Linked DNA regions of Homo sapiens: regions 2 and 3 are each linked to region 1. The links come from fine-mapping of genetic effects on plasma protein levels. Region 1 holds a variant in brackets. A gene starts in each other region. All regions are shown on their forward strands.

Evidence for each region. PIP is the chance, under the fine-mapping model, that this variant and not a neighbour inherited with it causes the effect. Protein levels are from antibody-based Olink assays in UK Biobank. Linkage for the fine-mapping came from a reference panel and not from the study's own genotypes, which makes the PIPs less certain.
Region 2: it holds the start of ENDOU, and the variant in region 1 is fine-mapped to the plasma level of the ENDOU protein (UK Biobank, PIP above 0.99).
Region 3: WFDC12 starts here. The variant in region 1 is fine-mapped to the plasma level of the WFDC12 protein (UK Biobank, PIP above 0.99).

Annotation. Positions count from the first base shown.
Region 1 is chr16:31,127,291-31,135,451 of GRCh38, forward strand. It overlaps KAT8 (lysine acetyltransferase 8), which reads left to right. Exons shown (of 11, transcript NM_032188.3): 5 at 1-63; 6 at 760-849; 7 at 2,727-2,867; 8 at 2,977-3,070; 9 at 3,166-3,316; 10 at 3,456-3,610; 11 at 3,905-4,069. The coding sequence ends at 3,969. It overlaps PRSS8 (serine protease 8), which reads right to left. Exons shown (of 6, transcript NM_002773.5): 1 at 8,124-8,161; 2 at 7,864-7,881; 3 at 5,936-6,098; 4 at 5,392-5,663; 5 at 5,139-5,305; 6 at 4,143-5,045. The coding sequence ends at 4,719. Among named protein-coding and RNA genes, the nearest start is that of PRSS8, 4.4 kb to the right of the region's middle. RefSeq lists enhancers at 1,814-2,761, 2,762-3,709, 4,658-5,603, 6,552-7,498. The variant C/T (reference allele first, on the strand shown) is at 4,223.
Region 2 is chr12:47,720,939-47,729,116 of GRCh38, forward strand. ENDOU (endonuclease, poly(U) specific) reads right to left here and starts at 4,552. Exons shown (of 10, transcript NM_001172439.2): 1 at 4,421-4,552. The coding sequence starts at 4,475. It overlaps RPAP3-DT (RPAP3 divergent transcript), which reads left to right. Exons shown (of 4, transcript NR_183480.1): 4 at 7,949-8,178. RefSeq lists silencers at 5,067-5,186, 6,152-6,211.
Region 3 is chr20:45,120,410-45,128,587 of GRCh38, forward strand. WFDC12 (WAP four-disulfide core domain 12) reads right to left here and starts at 4,056. Exons shown (of 3, transcript NM_080869.2): 1 at 3,960-4,056; 2 at 3,698-3,856; 3 at 3,016-3,534. The coding sequence starts at 4,038. The coding sequence ends at 3,437.

The DNA.
Region 1 (8,161 bases):
CTCTGGCTCTGCGAGTACTGCCTCAAGTACATGAAATATGAGAAGAGCTACCGCTTCCACTTGGTGAGGCTGGGCCGGCCGGGCCGAGCTGGGCAGGGGCCCGGTGAGAGGCAGAGGCAGGCATGGAGACTGAGGGCGGCTGCGCCGGCAGCTCCAGGGAGGAGACAGGCCCAAAGGAGCGAGTACAGGGAAGAGCTGCTGGGGGTCAGGAGGCCTGGATTCCAGGCCTGGCTTTGCTGTTGCTGGCAGGGTGACCTTGCCAACTTCAGACCTCAGCTCCTCTTCTCTGGAATGGGGACAGTAACTCACCCCCTTCAGGTCTTTTGCCAAGGCCAGCTCCATCCCAGGAAGCACACATAGCCCCTGGCAGTGGGACCTTAAGTGTGGATGAAATTGGGGGCTGTCAGGAAGGGGCGCTCTCATCACTGACACAGTGGGCTGCTTCCCGAAGTGTGGAATCTGAAGCGAATAGGTGTGGTTTAGGGAAGCCATTGTCATGGACGGGTCCCTCCAGAGCCAGGCCCACAGAGACTCAAAACCCCACCGTGCTGTGTGATGTTTGGATCTCTGTGCCTGGGCCTTGGTCTGTAAAAGCAGGATCACTTTCCTAAGGCTGCTGGGAGGATTACTCGATGTAGGTGAAGTGTTGAGGGGGGAAACAGAGAGGCAGAGACTTGCTCCAAAGCATGCAGTGGTGGGTTGGGTGCCTCCTAGCAGAGAACATATGGGCAGCGAACCTGTTCTCTTGTCCCCGACCAGGGTCAGTGCCAGTGGCGGCAGCCCCCCGGGAAAGAGATCTACCGCAAGAGCAACATCTCCGTGTACGAAGTTGATGGCAAAGACCATAAGGTGAGTGGGTGGCCAGGGGTTGGGAGAGGCCGGGGAGGCCCTGGGCACCTCCCAGATGATCCTCATCACCACCAAAGGGGAGGGGGCAGCCTTAGCTGAGCCTCTATGGGCAGAATGCCTCTGAGGGGCCGGGCACTGCAGCTCACACCTGTAATCCTAGCACTTTTGGAGGCTGAGGTGGGCAGATTGCCTGAGCTCAGGAGTTTGAGAGCAGCCTGGGTAACATGACGAAACTCCTCGACTAAAAATACAAAAAATTAGCTGGCGTGGTGGTGCGCACCTGTAATCCCAGCTACTCGGGAGGCTGAGGCACAAGAATTGCTTGAACCTGGGAGGCAGAGGTTGCAGTGAGCTGAGATTGTGCCACTGTACTCCAGCCTGGTCGTCAGATTGAGAATCTGTCTCAAAAAAAAAAAAGAAGGCCTCTGAGGGCCTCCTAGCCTGGCACTAGGCCTGTAGTTGGTGCATAGGAAACACAGGGCCTTGTGGTGGCCCCAAGACTCTTCTGCTGGTGGGGTTAGGTTCAAACTTGGGTTGTTCTGGAACCCAGAGGAGATTTTCTTGCCTGAGGCTGCTTTTAGAAGTGCTCTCTCCTTCCGTTGGAAAGAAAGGTGTTTGTTTTTGCCTGGGAGGGGACTGCTTTGTGTGAAATTTCCTCCTGAGAGAGCTCTGTGGCTTTCAAGGTTTGAGTTCCTTGTTCCTGGCCCCGAATGACTTCAGCAGGGCAGGTTGGGGCCTTTGGGACCTGCCTAGCTGTTGTAGAGAACTTGGCCTTTGCCTTATCAGTCTGGGAGGGTCTGGCCAAGTGTACTGGTTTCCCGCAGATGGGCCATACAGCACAGGACAGAGAGGGCAGGCTTCAGGGTGGCTCATGTTGCCTTGTCACTTCCTCACTGACCACAGACAAGTTACTTAACATGGTTTGTTCCTGTTTCCTTGTCCATAAGACGGGAGTCATAATATTTAATATTTACCTAGTTGTGTTGTTAGTGGAATAAATGAGACAGCAAATGTCAAGTGTTTAGTGCAGTGCTTAGCACTAGTATGTGCTTAATAAACACGGGCCTTGTTATTATCGGTGACCTCTTGGGGCTTGATTAGCCTTGGACTCGGAGAATACGCAGGCTGAGCCCAGCCCTTGCCCCTGCTCTGCCTTCCTGAGCATGGCTGTGTGGAATAGCAGAAGGGCCCCCGCTGGAGATGTGGGGGTGCTTTCCAACTGCGCTCTGCCAGCTTTGAGGCTCTGGGCAAGCACTTCCACTCTGGGAGCTTCAGCTTCCTCCTGAGTAAGATGGGCCTGGCAGTGCTGGGCTCGCACAGCTGCCGGGTTGGATGAGAGAGTGGCTGTGGTGTCATAAACCAGGGAGCCCCTTAGTGTGTGCCGTGAAGCCAAACTCGGTCCCATTGTCCCCCTCCTGGAGTGCAGCCAAGTGGACAGACAGGGCTCGAGGTTCCTCCATTCAGCAGACGTTTACCAGGCACCCAGCTTCATACTTAGACTCGTGCTAGGCGCTGGGGACACAGCCATGAACAGGACGGTCTAAATTCCTGCCTCGGAGCCTCAGTTTCACGAGCTGAAACAGAGTTAATGTCTGTGAAGACTGAAGCAGATCCTGCATGGAAGGCACCCAGCTCGTATTTGGCACTCAGAAGGGGTGGCCGGGCTTCATCCAGCTCCACTGGCACCTCCGAAGTGCTGTTGCTCTCTCATTTCCAGTTCCCTGTTCGTCAGAGGCTGACCGAAGACTCCTTCCAGTGTGAAATCCTTCTGGCCTGGCGAGGCGCCCACTTCGCGTGGGCTGGTGCCGGCCGCTGGAACCAGCTGGGTGGGGCCTGTGCCTGCCCCCTGAGCCTGTCTCCCCCCTCCTCAACCCTAGATTTACTGTCAGAACCTGTGTCTGCTGGCCAAGCTTTTCCTGGACCATAAGACACTGTACTTTGACGTGGAGCCGTTCGTCTTTTACATCCTGACTGAGGTGGACCGGCAGGGGGCCCACATTGTTGGCTACTTCTCCAAGGTGCTGGGTCTGGAAACTCGGGGTGGGGAGGGTGGGGAGGGCGAAGGTGGGCATGAACAGAGAGTGGGGCAGAGCCTCCCCAGCGGCCCTGAGCACCTGCCTCCTGCAGGAGAAGGAGTCCCCGGATGGAAACAATGTGGCCTGCATCCTGACCTTGCCCCCCTACCAACGCCGCGGCTACGGGAAGTTCCTCATCGCTTTCAGTGAGTGGTTCCTGGCCTGTCTGGGAGGGGGAGACCTGTGGGGCAGGGGTGCCAGGGCAGGCTGGATCCTAAGTTCCTCTTTCTACTGCTGCCAGGTTATGAGCTCTCCAAGCTGGAGAGCACAGTCGGCTCCCCGGAGAAGCCACTGTCTGACCTGGGCAAGCTCAGCTACCGCAGCTACTGGTCCTGGGTGCTGCTAGAGATCCTGCGGGACTTCCGGGGCACACTGTCCATCAAGGACCTCAGGTGAGGGGGCCTCCCGGGCCCTGGGGGCAGGACTTGCCCTGAGATGGGCCACGATCCTGCTTCCTCATACCCTGTCACCATCCTGGCCAGATCCCACAAGGGCACCAGGTCTGGCATTTGCTCTCATCCCTTTTTGCAGCCAGATGACCAGTATCACCCAAAATGACATCATCAGTACCCTGCAATCCCTCAATATGGTCAAGTACTGGAAGGGCCAGCACGTGATCTGTGTCACACCCAAGCTGGTGGAGGAGCACCTCAAAAGTGCCCAGTATAAGAAACCACCCATCACAGGTGGGTGGGGGGCTGCTGTGTGTCGGGGGCGGTGGGGGAGTGTCAGTATATGGACTGGTAGGAGTCAAGGCCTCCTTATTGCTGTCACATGATCCCAAACCAGTCAGACCAGCTCCCAGGATGGAGCCCGGGGCAGGCCTCTCATTCCTGGGCTTCCCTACCCCTCCCCAGCACAGCCTGCCCTTTTGTTCTCACCTGGAGGAGGTGAAACTGGCCTGAGCCCAGAGGAGGGCAGCCAGGTGTGAGCTGGCCTGGCCCAGGCCCAGCCCTGCCTCCCGCCCCTTCTCCCCACAGTGGACTCCGTCTGCCTCAAGTGGGCACCCCCCAAGCACAAGCAAGTCAAGCTCTCCAAGAAGTGAGCAGCCTGGCCCCTGCTGTCGGACCTGAGCCTCCTGGCTCCCAGCCTGTAAATATGTATAGACCTGTTTTGTCATTTTTTTAATAAAGTCAGTTCTGGTGGCCCTGGACTTTGGAGGGGAAGGGGAGGCCAAGAGCGGATGTTCTTCATTTCACTTCACACATGCACGGCAAGTTGTGCTCAAACATTTTAATCATTTCTGCCCTGTTACTCCCACCCCAGATCCAAGCGCCAGCCCAGTTCCGGTGGGGGCT[C/T]AGTCCTCCGGAGTCCAGGAGTCAGGGCTCGGGGGCGCTCAGCGGCCAGTGGGCAAGATTGGGGCCTTTCCTGTCCTCGAAGCTGCACAAAGGTGGCCCCAGCCCAGAACACAGGGAGAGGGCAGAGAGATGTGCTCATCAGTCTGGGCAGGCGGGCCGGGAGCAGTCTTCCAGAAACAGGTGGGAGCCAGGGCTCATTTTCATAGCCAAGGGTCCCAGGAGCTCCCCAGGAGCTCGGCCAATGGGCTGGTCCATGGTGGGTGAGGGGCCAGAGGCTCTGGCCATTGCTACAGGCAGTAAAACTCCTGACTCTCAGTGATGGTCCCAAAAAGCACACCCAGAAGAATGGGCTCAAAGATCAAGATGGGGCCCCAGCCTCCCGCAGAGTCCTGAAGGAAGGAGTGGCTCAAGTCAGGCCCTGGGTCCAAAGGCCATCAGGGAAGGACCAGGCTCCTGTCCTTGAGTGTGATGCATCCATCCTGGAAGTAGGGCCAGCTCAGTGCTCGCTGAGCCATGGGGAGAGGAGGCCCAGAGCCAGGCCCAGAGGCAGGAAAAGGATGGGCCTCAGCAAGCCCTGGGCTGGGGCAGAGCTGAAGGCCAGGTGGCTGCCACAGAGGTTGCTGTCGGGCTGGGACTCCTGGGTTTGGGGCACCACACGAGGCTGGAGTTCTGTCACCTTGCTTTGGATCCAGGAGGCATAGCTGGAGGCCAGAGTGTACACACCAGGCCTGTTGCGGGCCCCACAGGCATCTCCCCAGCTCACAATGCCCGTCAGGTACCAGAGACCCTCCACAGGGCAGGAGAGTGGGCCCCCAGAGTCACCCTGAGGAGAGAAGCCACACAGCAGCCATCAGGACCGGGCCAGGCCTCCTTTCCGAAGTTGCACTGGTCATCTGCCCCCCGGGCCTGTGCTTACCTGGCAGGCGTCCTTGCCCCCCTCCACATAGCCAGCACACACCATGTCCTCTTGGACAAAGTGCGGCTCCTCAGGCTTGGCGTCGATGTTGTACAGGCAGTTACACGTCTCACGACTGATCAGAGGCACCTCGAGTTGCTGCAGTGGCTTGGGCGTCAGGAGGCTCACTGTGGGGGTAAAAGAGGCTTACCCTGGGCCCCTCCCCAAGTCAGGTGCCCCTCCACACCTCTAGGCACCCAGCGTCCCACCTCACCTGAGGGGGCCACATGACCCCAGCCAGTGACAGTGCAGTGGAGGCCGTTGGGGAAGGAGGCGTTGGCTGCAGGGAGGCAGATGGGCCGGATGTAGCGGGAGAAGGTGATGGGTCTGCTGAGTTGGAGGAGTGCAATGTCGCCCTGGGAGCCCTCCTGGAGGTAGCTGGGGTGGGGGATGATGTCCTTCAGGGTGCTGACCTTGGCGTCCTCGGAGTAGGAGTCTAGCTGGTGGGCCCCCAGCTTGACCTCATAGGCTTCCTTGTGGTGCTCGCTGCAGGCAGGGGGCAAAGGCTGAGACCCAGGAGACCTCTCCTTGTTCCCCAACCCCCACTGCCAACCCCTGATTCCGATCAGCCCCTTTTAGGTCTCAAATTGCACCTTAGTTTTATCATGTAACCTCTGACCCCTCACCTTCACTCCTAACTGGTCCTTCCAGACTTAGAACTGACACTCTCAGACCCAACCCAAGAACCCCAACCTCTGACCTGGATTGACCCATTAACTTTGACCTCCAGCCCACTTTTGACTTTCACCATTTGGTACCTGGGGAAGCAGTGAGCAGCTGACAGCACCCACTGCTCAGACACGAGAGAGCCACCACACACATGGACGCCTTCATAGGTGATGCTGACCTGCCAGGGCCACTGACCGGCGACTGCACTGCTGCCACCTGTGATGCGTGCTTGGGGGGCCACACCGCAGGGAGCTGCCCAGGGAGGAAGGGAAGGGGTCAGGTTGTTAGCCTGGCCACTCCTATGCAGCCCAGGAGCTCTGATATAGAGCTTGGGAAGTGGGTTCACAGGAGTCAACACCCCTTTGTCCCCTCCCAGGCATGGGCAGTTGTGCCCCTTCTGTCCACTACCCATTACCTAATTCAGGTCTCATGGCAGCTTCTCTCCTTGCAAGCCTTCCATCCATCCCGCCCCTTACAAGTCTGAAGATTTTCATAAACCCCCAATCTGACCAGGCCACAGCCCTGCTTAAACCCTTCTTGGCTCCACGCGGTCCTTAAGATACATTCCAGACAGACCATGGCACCGCCATCGGACCCAGCCGTCCCCTCTGGACCCTTCAGTTGTGTACATCAGGCCACACACTTGTTTACCCGGGACCTTGGCTGATCCAGGTCACTCTACCTGGTATGCCCTTCCCCATCCTTACTGTCTGGCAAACTTCCCTTTGCCTGTGGATGCTTGATTGGAACAGCAGCCCCTCCGTAGACAGGCGGGCTTCTGCTGGCTGAGTTGGGCATTGCCTCCGAGCCCAGCACCCCCCAACCTCCACCATGCTCCCCGATGCTGCCCAGTCTCACAATTGTTCCGGAGTCCACAACTGTGTCTGTTTCCACCACACCAATCTGGGCATTCCCTAGGGGCAGATTCTCATGTCTGCAGTGCCTGTGGCGTCGTGGACATATATTCAACAAACCAACAGCAGAACTGGGCTCCTGTGATGTGAATGTCTAGTTTCCAGGACAGCCCCAGCCCCACCCCCATTGAGGCCACTTTGGAGTGGAGCCCAACTGCTCTTCACAAAGTCATCTAGGAGCAGAGAAAATTGCAGACCAGATCTTTCTCTCCCTTATCATCATGACAATAGCCACTATTTAGAGAGCCTAGCGGCTGTGCCAGGCCCTGGAGGGGCTTTCGCTTCCTCATCTCCCTGCATCCTCTCCACAGCCCCAGGAGACGGACATGACCAGCTTCATTTTAGAGGTGAGGAGTCTAAGGCTTAGAGAAGTGGGGGGACTTGGCCAATGACACACAGCCAGTGCATGGGGAAGCCAGGATTGAAAGCCGGTCTGACTCAGAGCTGGGTTGGGTGCCTTCCAAGAAAGGAGACCCTTGGTTTGGTTCCCTCAAAACCACCTCCAGGATGGGAACGGTGGCTCACACCTGTAATCCCAGCACTTTGAGAGGCCAAGGCAGGAGGATCGCTTGAGCCCAGGAGTTCAAGACCTGCCCGGCCAACATAGTGAGACCCACATCTCTACCAAACAAAAACAAAAACAAAAACAAAACACAACTAGCTGGGTGTGATGGCATGCACCTGTAGTCCCAGCCACTAGGGAGGCTGAGGTGGGGAGGTGGGAGGATCACGTGAGCCCGGGAGGCTGGATCACTGAGACTGCAGTGAGCTGCGATCGGGCCACTGCACTCCAGCCTGGGTGACGACAGACCCAGACCCTGTTTCAAAAGACAAAAACCAAACCAAAAAAACCACCTCGATTGCCCCACTTTGGGAGTCAGACGTGGATCTGAATCCCAGCTGCACCTTCACTGGCAGTGTGCCCTGGGCAAGTCCCTGCTTCTCTGCCCATAAGGTGAGGGCTAAAACCCCCCACTCTGGGAGCCCTAAGAGAATCTAGTTGGAAGGCAGCCCAGCTGAAGGCCAGGCACTGGTTAAACCCCAGGGGAATCCGATCCAAGTCACCTCCCCCTCCCCTCCTCCCTCTCCGAGGAAAGTCTCACCTTCTGCCCCTTCCGCTCCTAGAAAGAAAGAGAAAGAGGAGGGGTGAGTAGGGAAGACTCGGGTTCCCTGACCCCTTAGTACCCACCACTGCTCCAGAGGGCTGGCCCCTTCCCTGACAGAGCCAAGGTGGGAAAGAGAGGCCAAGAGCTAGGGAGGCCGGGGGTTTTCTTGGGCCCCAGACAAGGGCACACCCCAGAAAATGATCACGCCGGCTCCCTCCAGTGCATTGTCCCCACCCTGCCCCCACGTCCTCACTTACCTGTCCCCGACCGGAGTAATCCAAGATAGAGCAGAATG
Region 2 (8,178 bases), not on the chromosome of region 1:
TGCAGGAGGGTTCACAGACCAGGGCAGGAGTGTACCTGGCAGGGAAGGGCATTACTCTCTGCAAAGGAGAAGTACATCCACAGCCTCCCATGCACAACATAAGCCTCCTCCCCACCACCCAACACCCACCAAATATTTCAAGGCTCATCAAAGAGACCAGGATCACAAACCCAAATCCCTATTTGGGTTAGGCCCATAACATAAGCAAGTAAAGAAGCAGGGTATGAGGCAGTAGGAAGAAATGGAGACCGTGACAAACTTGAGAGCAATGCTCCATCTGAAATTTGCAGCTGATGCTCAGCTCTAGCCGATTGTGGCCATGTTGGGATGTGTGCTCAGTGTTGCCAGAGCCTTCCCTTTTTTTTTCAAGATAAATCTTCATTTTTATGTGAAATTTTCCAACCTTGTAACACTTTAAGCACACCAAAGAAAGAGGTCTGTGAACTGGGTGTAGCCCACAGGCCCCCTTCACCTGTCATGTCATGCTGCCCCAGGGATGTCCCCTGCCCCTGACCCTCCGCTGGCTCTTATTCCATCCCTGTTATGTTATTTGCTTCTTTGCTCTTGTCTCCCCTTCTGGTCTTCTCTGCACGCTCTTTCCCCCTGTGTCACATCTTTCTGTTCTTTCCCGTCTTTGGAGTACATTCAGATGAATTTATGCTCAGGGTGGGGAATGAGGCGGGTGCGGGTGAGAATTGGGCTCTGGCATAGCATTCTATTATGTAACCACAGACCACATCCCCCACTGCAGCCAAATGGTTTGCAGAAGCAAGCTTTTGGTCGCAAGGGACATAAGACAAGACATTTTGAAGGAACAGTGGAAACCCACTATCCACTCTGGGCTTTAAGGGTGATAACAGAGTCTTTGTTCGATTTGAGGTTCCTGAGGTTTGGATTTCACGAACGCTGGGTTCAGAGGTCATACTGTGGGTTACAGAGAATGTCAAGATCAGAGTCAGAGTTACCATCAGCATCAGAATTTGTATCAGTGAGGAAACTGAAACCTAATTTGGACCAGGGTTGGGGTTAGTTAGGTTAAGAACTACAGTTAGGATTTGGGCTTGAGTTAAATTAGTTGATAAATTAACAATTTTGTATTGATATTTGGGTAAGGAATAGGAATAGACTTAAGATGACATTCGGGGTTGAGGAATGTGTCAGGATGAGAAAAAGATGAATAATCCCTGTTTTGTTTGGGGGCTTGGTTCTGGTTATGATTCAATACAGGTGTAGTATCTTAATTTAAGCCTGGAGTGGGTTAGAGCTTAAATATTAGAGGTTGGGTTTGGTTACCAGTCCCTAGTATTGGATTCTGGGATTAAGGTTGATACTTTGTCTAATGAGGGACAGCATAGCAGAGAGGTCAAGAACCTAGACTCTGGCGCCAAACTGCTTGAGGCTGGAATTCTGGTTCTACTGCTTTCTAGCTATGTGATCTTGGGCAAGTTATTTGAACTTCTGTGCGTTGGTTTTCGTATCTGTAAAAGTGGGATGATAATGGAGCCTATCTCATAGAATATTTGTAAGAATTAAATGAGTTAATATATGTAAAGCACTTAGGACAGCAAGTGACACATAGTAGTACCATAGAAGTATTTGTTAGGTGAATAAACGGTGGCAATATTTCATGCCCATCTTCCAAGTGACAAGTGTTCAGACTGGCTGGAGCAGTCTTCCCTGTGTTGTGGCCCCGTCGACACACTTAATCTAGCTGACACTCTCCCAGGGTTTCAACAGGGCCATCCCTTGGGCTGGGTTGTCAGCACATCTGTGTTGCTGGTTTCCTGGCTGACTTCATCACTACAGGTCTGTATTCTTTACATCAGAGAGGCATTGGGTCAAGGTTAACCCGGGTCCTCAGACAACTTCACATTGTCAGGCCTCCAAGGTGGGCAGGAAGGCAGGTTTCCAGTCCCTAAAAGAGACCAGGCCCAAGGCCACTTGTTCCTTCAAGCCGGCAGGAACTCCTCTTGAATGTTAAATGATGCTCCCTTGGAGCCTGAATGCAAAGACCTTAAGGAGAAATTTTCAGCCCATCAGCTCCCTGCTCAGTCAGCCTGGCAGTACACCCAGAATCCAAAGGGAGAGAATTCAGGCAAATCAGGGCAATGTTTTTAATGGGCCAAATCAGCAGAGTCCAGGGAAAGAATTCACTTCATTCCAGCAGCTGGCACCAGTTGAGAAGGGTTGCAAGCGAGCAGTCAGCTGGACGTGCAGGAGAGCACCCCCGCCGGCCCAAGCTGAGTGGGCTTTTTCATCTCTGCTCAAGAACTTTGTCTCCAGCAAGAGCCCCATGCCAGCACTTTCTCACATTTCTCTGTGCACTTAGTCTGCTTCAAGGTGACCTTGGGATTTGACAGTGGAGTGCAGGGGTGGGAGGAACTTTTCCTCATAGGCACTTTGCTGTGACATTCTGGGGACACTCTGATGAGTAACTAGTCACCCTAACAACTCACTCCAGCATCCCCACACTGCACCATTAACACCAACACTCTGAGTAAGCCTTGCTCCCCAAGCCAGGTGCCTGAATCACTGCTGTAGTAACCTGTGCCTCTTGTTCCTCTGCCTCACCTCTCTGACTCTCTGCCTTTCTTCATCTGAGCCTTTCCTCTCTCGGGTTCAGATTCTCCCTCCATTCCCCCAAGAAATGCTCAATTTCTCTGCACTTTCTAAGACTTCAATATGCCAGAACAGCCACTCCCTATCCATACTGGCCATCAAGGAAGCTTGGTCCCAAGCCTGGGTGGACACAGTGTCCCTGTACACTGGTGCTCAGCCCCTCTGATGACTGGGACATCCTACACATCTGTACCGTTAGAAGGCCCCAGATGCTGTTTCCATGGAGACCTAGTCAACCAAGAAGCCTCACCCCTTGGACTAGCTTCCTGCCTCCATTCACAACCAAAAAAATCAACCAAGGTTCTCCACAGACATCCAGCTCATAAAGGAGGACCTGAGGCTGTCAGTGATTCCCCATGTGATTCATATTCTTGCCTCTCAGTTCTGAGATGTTGGGATAGTATCAACAAGTGCAGAGCCTCTTCCCTGCCACCTTAGGAAGCCTCATACACTTGACCTCACTTCCCCATCGATCCCACAGCCAAAGCAGATACTGCCCTCCGACCTAGCAGCAAGAGCTCCACCTGCACTTCTAAAGCCACTGCTACCTCTGCCCCCCAGGGACCAAATATCCAGAGTTGCTCTCCTTCCCTAAGGCTGGAATATGCCAAGCCCGCTGGCCACCCCTACACATTAAGCCCCCAAGTTCCACCTTCCTCCCAACCAACAGGGCTGAGGCTGGTGGCTCCCAGGCCCACCCTCATGCTCTCCCACTGCCTCTCCACCCACTAGGGCCCAGGCAGAGCTGGTTTCTGGTAAGATGCACTATCTCATCCATGGTTGGGAGGCACAACTTCCTCTTCCAGGGGTTTTCCACTTAGAAATCCCATAAGGGTCTCCTTTCCACAACCCAGTTGGAAATGACCCCAAGCGGAAGTTTCTCCCAAGAAAATTTATAGTCATAATCATAGCGAATTTCCAGTTCACTGAGATCTCACTTTGCACCAGGTGCTTCTCATACATTATTTCATTTAATCCTTTCCACAGTCCTACACAGGAGCAACCCAGTGGAAGGATTCTTTCTCCTGTGGGCAGAGGAGGATTCTCCCCACACTCCTCAGCTCAGCCCCTCCCTTGGCACTCCTTCCCACCCACCCACTAGCTACCAATTAACCCATCAGCACCAGCATTTTGCACAGTTACTAAACAGGAACATGGTCCTGTTCCTCTGCCAGTCCCATCCCCTGGACCTCTCATAACTGTGGGCCAGGTCCCTTCTGTATTCTTCAATTCTCCTAACACTGCAACAGAGATCCATTCCTCTGACCCCTGTACAGCCCCAGATAGGACGAGGCCCACCTCCTGGTCAAAGGTCCTTTCAGTTTCCTCCTAAGCCTGCCCACCTCCTAAGGCTCTACCCAAAGTAACATCACACCCTAAACAACCTCACCTGTCACCAGGCAGTGGAAGGAGTGACCAAGGGCAGCCAGGCCACTCAGACCCCATGGACACCAGCCCTAGCTTTATTCCTTACAGTGGCCCCAGACAACAAAATCTTGGGGAGATCAAAAGTCAGGCTGGACTAAGGGATATTTGGGGCTGATCCTCCAAGGTGTCAAGAAGGGAATTCCATGAAATCAGACCATCAGCCCTGCAACTCTCTCCACATAGTCCAGTCCATTCCGGGACCAACGCCTGCACCCTCAGACAAGGACAACCCAAAAGTGCTCTGCGGCTTTAGGACAGAGCTCACCCTCCCTTGTCCCACGGCCCTGCCCTCTACCAAGTTCTCCAACTCTCTGCTTCTTTAGGCAAGATCCCGCCCCACCAGCAATCCCATGCCCGCCAGATAGTGACTTACCAGCCCAGGCCAGGCCACACAGCACGGCCAATACCAGGGAGATGCAGGCCCTCATGGTGCCCAGTTGGAGGCCAAAAAGGGAGTGGCTGTTGGACTTTCACTAGAGTCAGATGAATGTCACAGCTCTCAGACGAGCCTTATTCCTCAAGCTGATCCTTTTAAAGACACCAGGACTTGTGGAGCTGGTGTCTCCAGATCCTTTCAGGAAGAAAAAGGGGAGGGAGGGACCCTAGATGGATAGGAGGTGGGGCCCTACAGCTGTTTGAAGCCTGAGGGAAGGTGACTAAGAAGGTAGGTAATGCCAGATGTTGAGAACAGGTAATGCTAGCTGTTTGCAGCTTAAAAAATAGGTCATGCAGGCAGGCACACCAAGATGGGTCCAGTTTGGAGGGTTCTTTGTCCAAATTAGGGACACCCATGGGCTGATCTTTGGGTGATCCCCACCAAACAGACACCTACTTCCAAGTCTCAGACCTGACTTTCCAAGGGGCCACAGGTTGGATTCATCTTCAAATTCCTGGAGCTTAGCATGACACTGGCACACAGTAAGGTGATTGGTCCAAATTTGACAAACAGTAAGTGCCCAAGCAAGGGTTGGGGTCATTGGACAGAGAGATAGAGGATGTGTCGGTCAGAACCAGTGCTATTCTTATGACCACCAAGCCCAGCATAGCTAAATCAGCCACATGTCGAGCGCATGGCTAAATCACTCTAAAATATTATGCAAATGACTCTTACTGAGTCAGCCTCTGGGGTTTAAACGTTTCAGATTCCTTATGAGGCAGGGGAGGGGCAAGAGGCCTCTTAAAGGCAGCCGAAGGCCCACTCTTCTTCCCCTGGGAGCCCAGGGTTTCACTCCCTTCACCCCAACTTACACTCCTCTCCTCAGGAACTCCTCCCCAGTGAGGTTCTTTTGTTTCCAAGTCCAAAAGAAGGGGAGCAGCTCCCCGTGACTGTCCAGTTTTCCCCGATAATAAAGGTAAAATCTGCCAAGTATGATGCCCTTGCCAGAAAGAGCACTGCATGGGGATTCTCAACCCTCTCAGGAAAGAAAACTATCATATAAAAAGGCAAAATTGGTGAACAGTGGAGGCCACTCTATCAGTGATTTTTTTCTGGAGGTTGGGAGTGGAGCACGTCTTCATCCAGTGTGCTTTAACAGGAGAAGTTTCTTCCTCTCGCTGGTCTTCAGCTTTCTCATCTGAAATGATGGGGTTGGATCTGACAATCCCTTCCAGGTTCTCAGACTTTAATCTCGAGTTTTCCTGCCCATGCGCCAGGTTGAACAGTTGCTGGTGGGTTAAAGAGAATCCCCCAGCCTGTTGCTGTGTAGAGAGGAGTCCAAACATAGGGACTCAGGGGTAGAGAGAAGGACAAGCCTAGGGCAAGCAAACTTTGCAAGGGGCTCACACAGGAAGTGCAATGTATGTATATATTTTGAGATGGAATCTCTCTCTCTGTCGCCCAGGCTGGAGTGCAGCAGTGTGATCTCGGCTCACTGCAACCTCCATCTCCCCAGCTCAAGCAATTCTCATGCCTCAGCCTCCCGAGTAGCTGGGATTATAGGCATGCACCACCACACCTGGCTAATTTTTGTATTTTTAGTAGAGACCATGTTGGCCAACCTGATCTCAAACTCTTGACCTCAGGTGATCTGCCCACCTTGGCCTCCCAAAGTGCTGGGATTACAGGTGTGAGCCACTGCATCCAGCCCGGAAGCACAACTAAAGAGTGAGCCTAGCCCTTCTCTCCCAGAAGGGAGCTGGTTAGAATGAGTAAGAGCAGAAATGGCTGCTTCATTTGCATAGATTTCATTTACACAATCCAAAAGCAGGCTGAAGAGTCACTGCCCCTCAGAATCCTCATCCTCCCTGGGTTGGCACCACATAAACGTGTCTCTGACTCCTGTTGTTTAGGGGACAAAGGAGGGTGTCACTGGCTGGCCTGGGAAGCAATGATGCCTCAGAATTTGGGAATGAATGGTCTGTCCCTTCCAAGTGTCCAGCTGGGTGGACCCTAGCTGAAGCCAAAGCTGTCAGAGTGGAGTACAGCCTGGCTAGGTTCTCCTAGTGTCCAGCTGAACTGGCCATGGGATGGTGTTTTGAGGGCAGGAGCTCTCCCCCCATTAATGGAATTTTAGGTCAGGAGCAAGGATTGGAGCTGGGGAAGACAGTTAAGGATGACTCCATAGAGCCAGATGGTTCATCTGAGTACCCAAGTGTTTAAAACTGCATCCTTCAATAAGAATAACAGCCTTAACAACCACCAGCAACATTGACTGAGCACTTACCACGTGTGTTATCATATGTGTTATCTCATTGATTCTCACTACAACCTTAATAGGTACTATTGCTGTCCTCATTTTACAGATGAAGAAACTGAGGCACAGAAAGGTTAGGAGACGTGCCCAGAAGCACACAATCATTAAGTTATGCAGCTGTGCCTCAACCCAGATCCATCTGACCAGGGGTCATTCTCATAAGCACCGTTGCTCCATTGCCCCACAACATCACACTTTGAACGACCACTTAATCATGTCTGGTTACTATACAAAGCAGTCTAGATTTAAATTCACTGGAATTAAAGGGACCTCAACTGCCATCTAGTTCCACTTCTCATAGGATGTCACAACTCCCTAAACAACCCTAAGTGCTTGTCCTGCCTCTCCTTCATTGCCTCTGGTGCTGAGGGTTGAGGGGTGGGGAATTGGGATATGCCCTCCCACGGCTGCTCATACGCCCTCTTCGCAGATCGGATTCCCAAACCCCAGATTTTATAACCGAAGACATGCTGACAAAGGCAGAAAAAATCCATTAAGCCAATAAATGAAAATATATCAATACATATTCATGCAAAGATGCCTCATAAACTTAGATGTCCATGTATGTGTGTATACACACACACACACACACACACACACACACACAAAAAGAGAGAGAGAGAGAGAGAGAGAGAGAGAGAGATACATTAAGATAGATTTCAGGCAGCTTTCTCTTCCCTGCTAGCCTGTTGTGGACCAAGAACTCTGCGGCTCCTCTTTCTGAGTACCCCCCGCCATTAGGTACTCACATGGGCTTTCCATCCTTGCAGACTTCCCAAGAAGCCACAGTGGGACCAGCCAGCAAGTTGGGAATTGTGGTAGGCTGGGTCCTGGAGAGCTGGGGTAGGGAGAGAGTGGAGGGAGATGCATGGTGGATGGTGTCTCAATGATGAGAATAGCGACAGAGATGGTGCAGTTGTGTCCTCTGTGGAGGTCTGGAGAGTGGGGAAGAGGGTGAGGCTGCTTGGGCAAGGATTTGGGAGGCACTCAGCTGTGAGAGACATAGAGGGTGGGAATTCCATCAGCCAAATATTTATCGAGTGCTCACTACACATCAGGGGCTATGCTGTTATTGGACTGGCAGGGTTCAGGCTAGGCTGGAAAACTCTTCCTGGAACTGATTGGTTTCTGGTGGGACAGAAGCCAGATAAGCCTCAGCATTAGGGCATTGTTTGAAGTAGGCCTCATTCATCTCTGGGCTACCACAGGTGTCTGGGGTCTGTCAGGATCAACAGGCCTTGAGAGAGACTGACCCAGAGGACTACTAAAAGGGACACCTGCCCAGGCCAGCCTATTCTACCATCCTCGTTCTCCTGCAAAACCAAGGCCACGTCATTTCAGCAGAGGACCTGCGTGTGGAAGGACCCTGCAGCTGGCCCATCACAGGAGAGGCCCAGACTCACCTCCCAAGGGGACCCTGGCACATGAAGATGCTGGT
Region 3 (8,178 bases), not on the chromosome of region 1:
TGAACCCCTCAAAGTCATTCATGAGGGTTGAAATCAACTTCTTCCATACTCCTATTCATGTTGATATTTTGACCTACTCCCATGAATCATGAATGTTCTTAATAGCAGTTAGACTGTGAGCCCTTTCCAGAAGGTTTTCAGTTTACTTTGCCCAGATCCATCAGAAGAATCACCATCTGTGGCAGCTATGAGATGTATTTCTTAAATAATGTATAGCCTTATGAGATGTATTTCTTAAATAATAAAACTTGAAAGTTAAAACTACTCCTTGATTTGCAGAATAGATGTTGTGTTAGCAGGCATGAAAATATTAATTGTCTTGTACATCTCTGTCAGAGCTCTTGGGCTATCAAATGCATTGTCAATAAGTAGAAATATTACAAAAGGAAAGTAGAAATTGTTTTTTTTTGTGAGCAGTAGGTCTTAACGGTGGGCTTAAAATATTCAGTAAACTATGCCGTAAATGGATGTGCTGTCATCCAGGCTGTGTTGTTCCACTTATAGAGCACAGGCAGAATAGATTTAGCATAATTCCTAAAGGCTCTAGGATTTTTGGAATAGTAAATGAGCATTGGCTTTAACTTAAAGTCACCAAATACACTAGTCCCTAATAAGAGAGTCAGCCTGTCCTTTGAAGCTTTGAAGCCAAGCATTGACTTCTCTCTAGCTATGAAATTCCTAAATGGCCTCTTCTTTCGATAAAAGACTGTTTCATCTACATTGAAAATCTGTTGTGTAGCGTAGCCACCTTCCTCAATTATCTTGTGTAGATCTTCTGGAGAACTTGCTGCAGCTTCTCCATCAGCACTTGCTGCTTTACTTTACACTTTTATGTTATGGAGATGGCTTCTTTCCTTAAATCTTGTGAACCGACCTCTGCTATCTTCAAACTTTTCTTACGCAGCTTCCTCACCTCTCAGCTTTCATAGAATTGAAAAAAGTTAGGGCCTTGCTCTGGATTAGGCTTTGGCTAAGGGGATGCTGTGGCTGTTTTGATTTTTTTATCCAAACCACTAACATTTTCTCCATATTAACAATAAGTCTGTTTCACTTACCATTTGTGTGTTTGCTGGAGTAGCTGTTTTAATTGCCTTCAATAACTTTTCCTTTGCATTCATAACTTGGCTAACTGGTAAAAGAGGCCTAGCTTTGGACCTTTCTTGGTTTTCAAACATGCCTTCCTCACTAAGGTTAATCATTTCTAGCTTTTTTTGATTTAAAGTGAGAGACATGACTCTTCTTTTCACTTAAACACTTAAAGGCCACTGTAAGATGATTAATTGGCCTCATTTCAGCATTGTTGTGTTCCAAGGGAGAGAAACAGAGAATGGCCGGTTGGGGGAGAAATCAGAACATATGTGACATTTATCGATCAAATTCACTGTCTTATGTGGGCACAGTTTATGGCACCCTGAGACAATTAGGAAAGTATCATCAAAGATCACTGATCACAGACCAACATAACAGATGTAATGATAATGAAAAAAATTGAAATATTGTGAATATTACCAAAATGTGACACAAAGACACATAGTGAGCACATGCTATAGGAAACATGCAGCCAATGTACTTGCTTGGTGCAGGGTTGCCACAAACCTTCAATTTGTAAAAAATGCAATGACTGCAAAGCACAATAAAACAAGGTATGCTTGTATTGTGGCTGTAATTGTTGTAGCTCCATAATATGTTTTAGTGACTGGTGGTATCCATTACCCTTCATTAGTCTACATTTTCAATTTTCCAGGTTACAAGTATTTTATTGTTCCATGTGAACCTAATGATCATTTTGTTAAGTTGCAAAAACAAACCCTTGTTTTTATCATAAAATGTTTTCAAAAATGCACAAAAGAACAGCAAATACTTTTATGGAGCCTACATACCCATCATCCAGATTCAACAATGAACCATTTTACAAGAATTCCTTCATGCATATCCCCACCCCTTTTTTGGCTGAAGTATTTTAAAGTAAATCCAACCGATCTTATACTTTACCTTTAAATACTTCAGTGTGCATCTCTAAAAACTAAGGACACTTTCTCACATAATGACAATCCTACTGTTACACCTAAGAAAATTAACTGCAGTTTCTTAACATCATCTAATATTCTATTTGCATCTTGTTTTTCTTATTGTCTCAAAAGTGACTCTATGGTTGTTGGTGCACATATTGCATTGGCTGTAATGTATCTGAAGTTTCTTTTAATCTAGAACAATCTCTCCAACTCTTTTTTATTCTCCTTTCCTCCCTCCTTCTTCTTCTTCATGCTATTGACTTGTTGAACAAAACAGACAAATTGTTCTTTAGAATGTCCCATGTTGCTTCCCTGTGATGTCTTTCATCTTCTTTGTCCTTCACATTTCCCATAGATGAATGCTAGCTGTAGAGGCTTGGTGAGGTTCATGCTCAACTGTCTTGGCAGGAGCCCTTCTTGAATGATGCTGTGTGTTTTGTGTTGCATCACCTCAGGAGGAACGGAGGTCCGCTTTACCCATTTTTAGCATTGTGGAGACAGATTAATGTGTTTTCGGTGTGTACCTGAATCCTCAAGTTGTAAACTTGTGTTTTCCCTCTTACAAACTGTAAATATACCACAGGGTGATGAAATGGCACCCTGTAAATATTCAGAAGCCATGGATAATCATTGCCAGAATCAATTATTTCATTAGGGTTTGCAAAACCCAGTGGGTTTTAATTTTAATTATATTTCAGGTATAAATTATGCTGACCAAGGTGAACACTTTGAGGAGGCTTCCTGCTTGGGGAAGAGCATATCTTTTAAAAAACATTTATTTATTTATTCTGTAGAAAAGTTTAGTCTATTTATCCAGATCTTTTAAAATGTCATTTAATAAAGTTTTAGGGTTTCCTTTCAGAAAATTTCTGTACATCTCTAGATTTATTTGTAGGTATTTTATATTTTATTCACTTTGATAATGTTGAATAGGATTTTTTTTTTTTACTATTAGGTTGTCTTAGCAGGTTTGGGCTGCTATAACAAATTACCATAGACTGGGTGGATTATAAACAGCAAATATTTATTTCTTACAGTTCTAGAGGCTGGGAAGTCCAAGATCAAGGCACCAGCAGATTCAGCATCTGGTGAGGACCAGTTTCTCTTCTCTGACAGTGCCTTCTAGCTGTGATCACACATTGCAGAAGGGCAAGGCAGCTCTTTGGGGTCTCTTATAAGGGCACTGGTTTCATTCATGAGGGGTCCATTCATGAGCATTAGGGAGGAGCACCAGGTAGAGAGGGAAAGTACCGTCCCTGGGGTCTGGACTTTTTGTGACTCTTCCCTCTTTTTGGGGAAAAGGACTTCAAGCTCAGGTTTTCTTTGGTGGGGTTGGGTATTGCTTCTTCCATATTCCAAGTCTCAGGACCCTCAGGGGCAGGTGCCAAGTGAGAGTGACCCCCAGAGGTAGAAAGGACCCAGCATCATTTCTGAGGACACCTGGTAGAGGAGGAGCCTGGACACTTGGCCTCCCATCCTGGCTCAGGGTATGGCCTTGACACATCTTCATCCTTGTTTCCTCCTTTGGACAATGGAGATGTTCAGACTAGGTGGTCTCTGAGGGCCCTGCCAGCTTTAGCCATCCCTCCCCACACCAGCTAAAGGGACTAATTCCTCCGAACTTTCATGGGTCAGATAGAGGCAGGGAAGGGACAGCCCCAGCCCTGGGAGGCAGGTCTCCTTACCTTCTTCCAGTTCCTTCACAGGAATCACACACTTGAAGCCACAGTGCAGGTAACAACACTTCCTTTCCCCCAGACAGTCCTGGTCTGTGTGACACTGGGGAGGATCGGACTTGAAGCAGCGTACGTTGTCAGCTGGGCAAACCCCTGCTTTCTCTATACCTAGTGGAGGAAGCCACAAGGTGATATGAGAACTCCAGCCCCAGAGGGCCCCTCAGGACCTCTCCCCAGCCCAGCCCCACCCAGCTCCACCATGTCTGCTCACCCTCTTTAACTCCTTCCACAGCCACCAGGGTCACAAGAACGAGAGACACCATGAGGACCAAGAAGCTGCTGGACCCCATGTTGCCAGGCAGGTGCTTGGCTGGGAGCTGGGCTGAGCCTGGCTTTATAGTGTTCCTGCTGGGCATGCCAGTGGGTGGAGCTGAAGGCTCAAAATGGCAAGGGAGGCTGCACTTCCCAGCTCTATTTGGAAATGGCCCCTTCTGAGGAGGGACTTGGGGCTTTCCCTAAGGCTCTGCACTGGAATAGATGAAGAAATCCAAGAGCGACCCTCGTTCTTCACACGAGGAGAAGAAATGGACACGTGATTGACCATTAGGCGCCACCAGGGCCAAACTATCTTATGGAAGGAGGAAAAGAAGCACAGAAAGGGCATGAAATTACTCAAGTTCACACACGAGGCAGTGGCAGGGCCAGACTTCCTCAACTCCACCGTGTTCTCTATCAGTCCCTCTTCATGCCTGATTCACCTGGGACCAAAATCTTCCCTCCTTCCTGTGCTGCCCCGGACTTGTTCTCAGTTCTCACCTCACCCCAAGGAAGAATCTGAATGGCAGTGCTTAAAATGTCTGTCCTGAACATTCACTCTCAGCCTTGCGCTCCAGCACCGTGTGCTCCTGCCCCCCGCCAATCTCATGTGGCCTGGAGGAAAGCAGATTTTGGACCTGTCACCAGCTGTGTGACTTTGAAAGCAGCTTCACCTTTCTAAGCCTCCGTTTCCTCATTCATACAATGAGCATAATAATTATACTGTATCATCTTCATAGGATTTGTTTTCCCTCCTCTGCCCCTGCATCCCCCAAATTCCTGGATTTGGAAGAAGACATGGACGTGTGTGCGTGTGTGTGTGTGTGTGTGTGTGTGTGTGTGTGTGACCAGGCTTTTGGGGTCCTTTCTTTGAATGAGTACTAAAGGGAGGAAAATCCTTCCTGTTGGAAAAGTTGCAGATATAAGCCCAGAAACTCCAGAAATTTGGTCCTGGCCCTGGTGAGAGAGAAATTCTGAGAAGATAAATCTAAGATGCTGATAAAAAGAGATGAGAGATGGACAGGGAGTAATTTAGAGGATATCTAGTCCTTCACTAAACTTTTTCCTGAGATCAGCCCCACTCATACCCAGGGTTATGTTACCACCCAATACATTCACCTTTCTGCCTAAGCTGGTCTGAATTGGATTTCTGTCATTTACTAACAGGACCCCTGAGTAATGCAAAGATTTGGGTTTGGGGTGTTCCACATCCTGAAGTGTGGAAGGGACTGAGTTGGGGTTAAGTGGAGGCAGGGAGGATACCTCCATTCCTGGAAGTGAGCCTACTCCTTATTAGGTGGTGAATCTTTGGTTACAATCTCACCAGTCATATCACTGGACTCAGATCATTTGGATACCAGGGATGGAATCTGGGAAGTTCATAAACAAATACTAGAATGTTGGAATGTATTGGCTATTTCCTCCTCCACCTTTTTATTATGAACTTTTTAAACATACAGAAAAATTGAAATAACAGAACAATGATACTTGTATACCTACAACTGGATTTAACAATTATTAATAGTTTGGGATATTTTAGAATACCTATAGCTACATTTGTTGAAATATTTGAAATGAAATTGAATACATTATGTTCCTATTTCCTAAATACATCAGCATGCAAATTCTAAGAATAAGGATATTCTTCAATATAATCACAAAGCCATTATCATATCTAAGATAATTAATAGTTTCTGCATGTCATCTCATAGCCAGTTCATATTTGTTTCTCCGGTTCTCCCCAAAATGTCATTTGTAATTGACTGTTGATGATACTTCTTTAAAAAAAGTATTGTAAAATAAATCCTACATATGAAAGAATGTAATCAACATTCTATACCTTTTGAAAAAGAATAATAAACACCTATGAACCTATCAATTTAGAATAGGACATTACCATCCCTACTTCAGAGGTAACCACTATCTTGAACTTTCTGTTAATCATCCTCATGTTTTCCTTTAAAGTTTTGCTCTCTTGCTATGGCTTGCTTAGTGATACGTGTTGTTTAATTTCGTGTAAGCGTAATTATGGCCTAAGTATTCTTTTGTATTTTGCATGCTTTGCTCAACACCGTGTTTTTTTAAAAAATTGTGGTAAGAAATATATACTATAAGACATGACCTCTTAACATATTTTTAAGTGCATACTAACAGTATTGTTAATTGTGGGCACAGTGTCATACAGTAGGTCTCTAGAACTTTTTCATCTTGCATGACTGAAACCCACTGAATAGCAACTCCCTATTCCCCCCACCCCCAGACCCTTGGAACCACCATTCTGTTTTCTGCTTCTATAAGTGACTACTTTAGACACTTCATAAAAGTGGAATTATGCCATATTTGTCCTTTTGTGACTGGCTTATTTTGCTTAGCATAATGTCCTTGAGGTTCACCCATGTTGTAGCATGAGATAGACTTTTCTTCTTTTTTATGGCTGAATAATATTCCATGGTATGCATATATATGTACATGTATATAATCTTTTTCCTTCCCTCATTTATCTGTCAATGGGTCAATGCACATTTAGGTTTCCATTTCTTGGCTATTGTGAATATTGCAGCAATGAACTTGCAGGTGCAAATATCTCTTTGGGATCCTGATTTAAATTCTTTTGGATAAATACCCAGAAGGGGGATTGCTGGATCATGTGATAGCTCTATTTTTAATTTTTTGAAGAACTTCCATACTGTTTTCCGTAGTGGCTATACTCCTTTAAATTCTCACTGACAGTGCACAAGGGTTCCAAATTCTCCACATTCTCACCGGTACTTGTTTTCTTTTTCTTTTCTTTTTAAAATAAAAGCCATCCTAACAGGTATGAGGTGATCTTATGGTTTGATTTTCATTTTCCTGATGATTAGACATGTTGAGTATCTTTTCACATACCTGTTGGCCATTTGTATATCTTCTTTGGAGAAATGTCTGTTTAAGTCTTATTCACTTTTAATTGGGTCTTTATATTTATATGTGTGTGTATATATATATATATATGCATATGTACACACACATATATATAATGAAAAAGAAAAGAAATAAGTATTAGAATGGGAGACGAGAAAAGCCATTGTTTGCAAATGATGCAATAATAAAAACACAAAAGAAACTACAGATACATCATGAGTTAGACAATTTTTCAAGATTAGCTGACACAAAAATCAATATATAAAAGTCAGCTGCTTTCTATACACTAGAAATATTGGTTAGAAAAATGTAATACGTTAAAAGCAATAACATGTAAAATATTTAGTAATAAAGGCAACCTGTGAGATGGGAAAAATATTTGCAAACTACCTACCAGATAAGGGGTTAATTTTCAAAATATATAAAGAACTGCAACTCAATAGCAAAAATATGTTTACATATATATATACATATATACATAGCAAAAATATGTTTATATATGTATATATATAAATACATTTAGGCTTACATTTAGGTTTCCTAGAAACCTAGACTGTCTAGGAAGCAAGCCCCATAAGGAACTTCTCATATTCATATTATAAGAAGGTAAAATTGCAGGGGACAATGTTCCTGTTTTGTAGTAGTAAACTACCTTCTCAAAAGGTGGTTATTTTGTCCCCAGGGGACTTTGGCAATGTCTGGAGACATATTTGATTGTCACAACTGGGACAGATGTGCTTCTCACATCCAGTGTCTAGAGGCTGAGGTTGCTGCTAAATATCTAACAATGCACAAGACAGCTTTTCACAACAAACAATGATCTGTCTCCAAGTGCCAATAGTATTGATGTTGAGAAACGCTGCTGTCCTGCCTCACTGACTAATAGCTGTGCATGGCCTCAGAACACCTCAATGTAGGCTGAAGCGAGTAATGATGGGAGTGTCTGCTGGGAGTATCCCATGCTTAGGAGTGCTGATCCTTGGCTCACTGGTTTCACCCAGTAAAGGCATTCCTTAGCCCATGCCATGTGACCTTGTGGAATTCATCCCATGTTCTGCTGAATCAGGTTAATAAAGTTCCCTTTTAATTCTAGTTAGCTAAGAGTTTTTCTCATGAAAGGATGTTGAATTTTTATCAAATGCCTTTTCTTCATCAATTGAAATAAATATATGGATTGTCTCTTCAATCTGTTATTTTGTGAATTACATTAACCAGATTTCACATTCATTGTCTTTTTTGGGCATCATTTATTTATGTGCTTCAAGAAAGTGGAA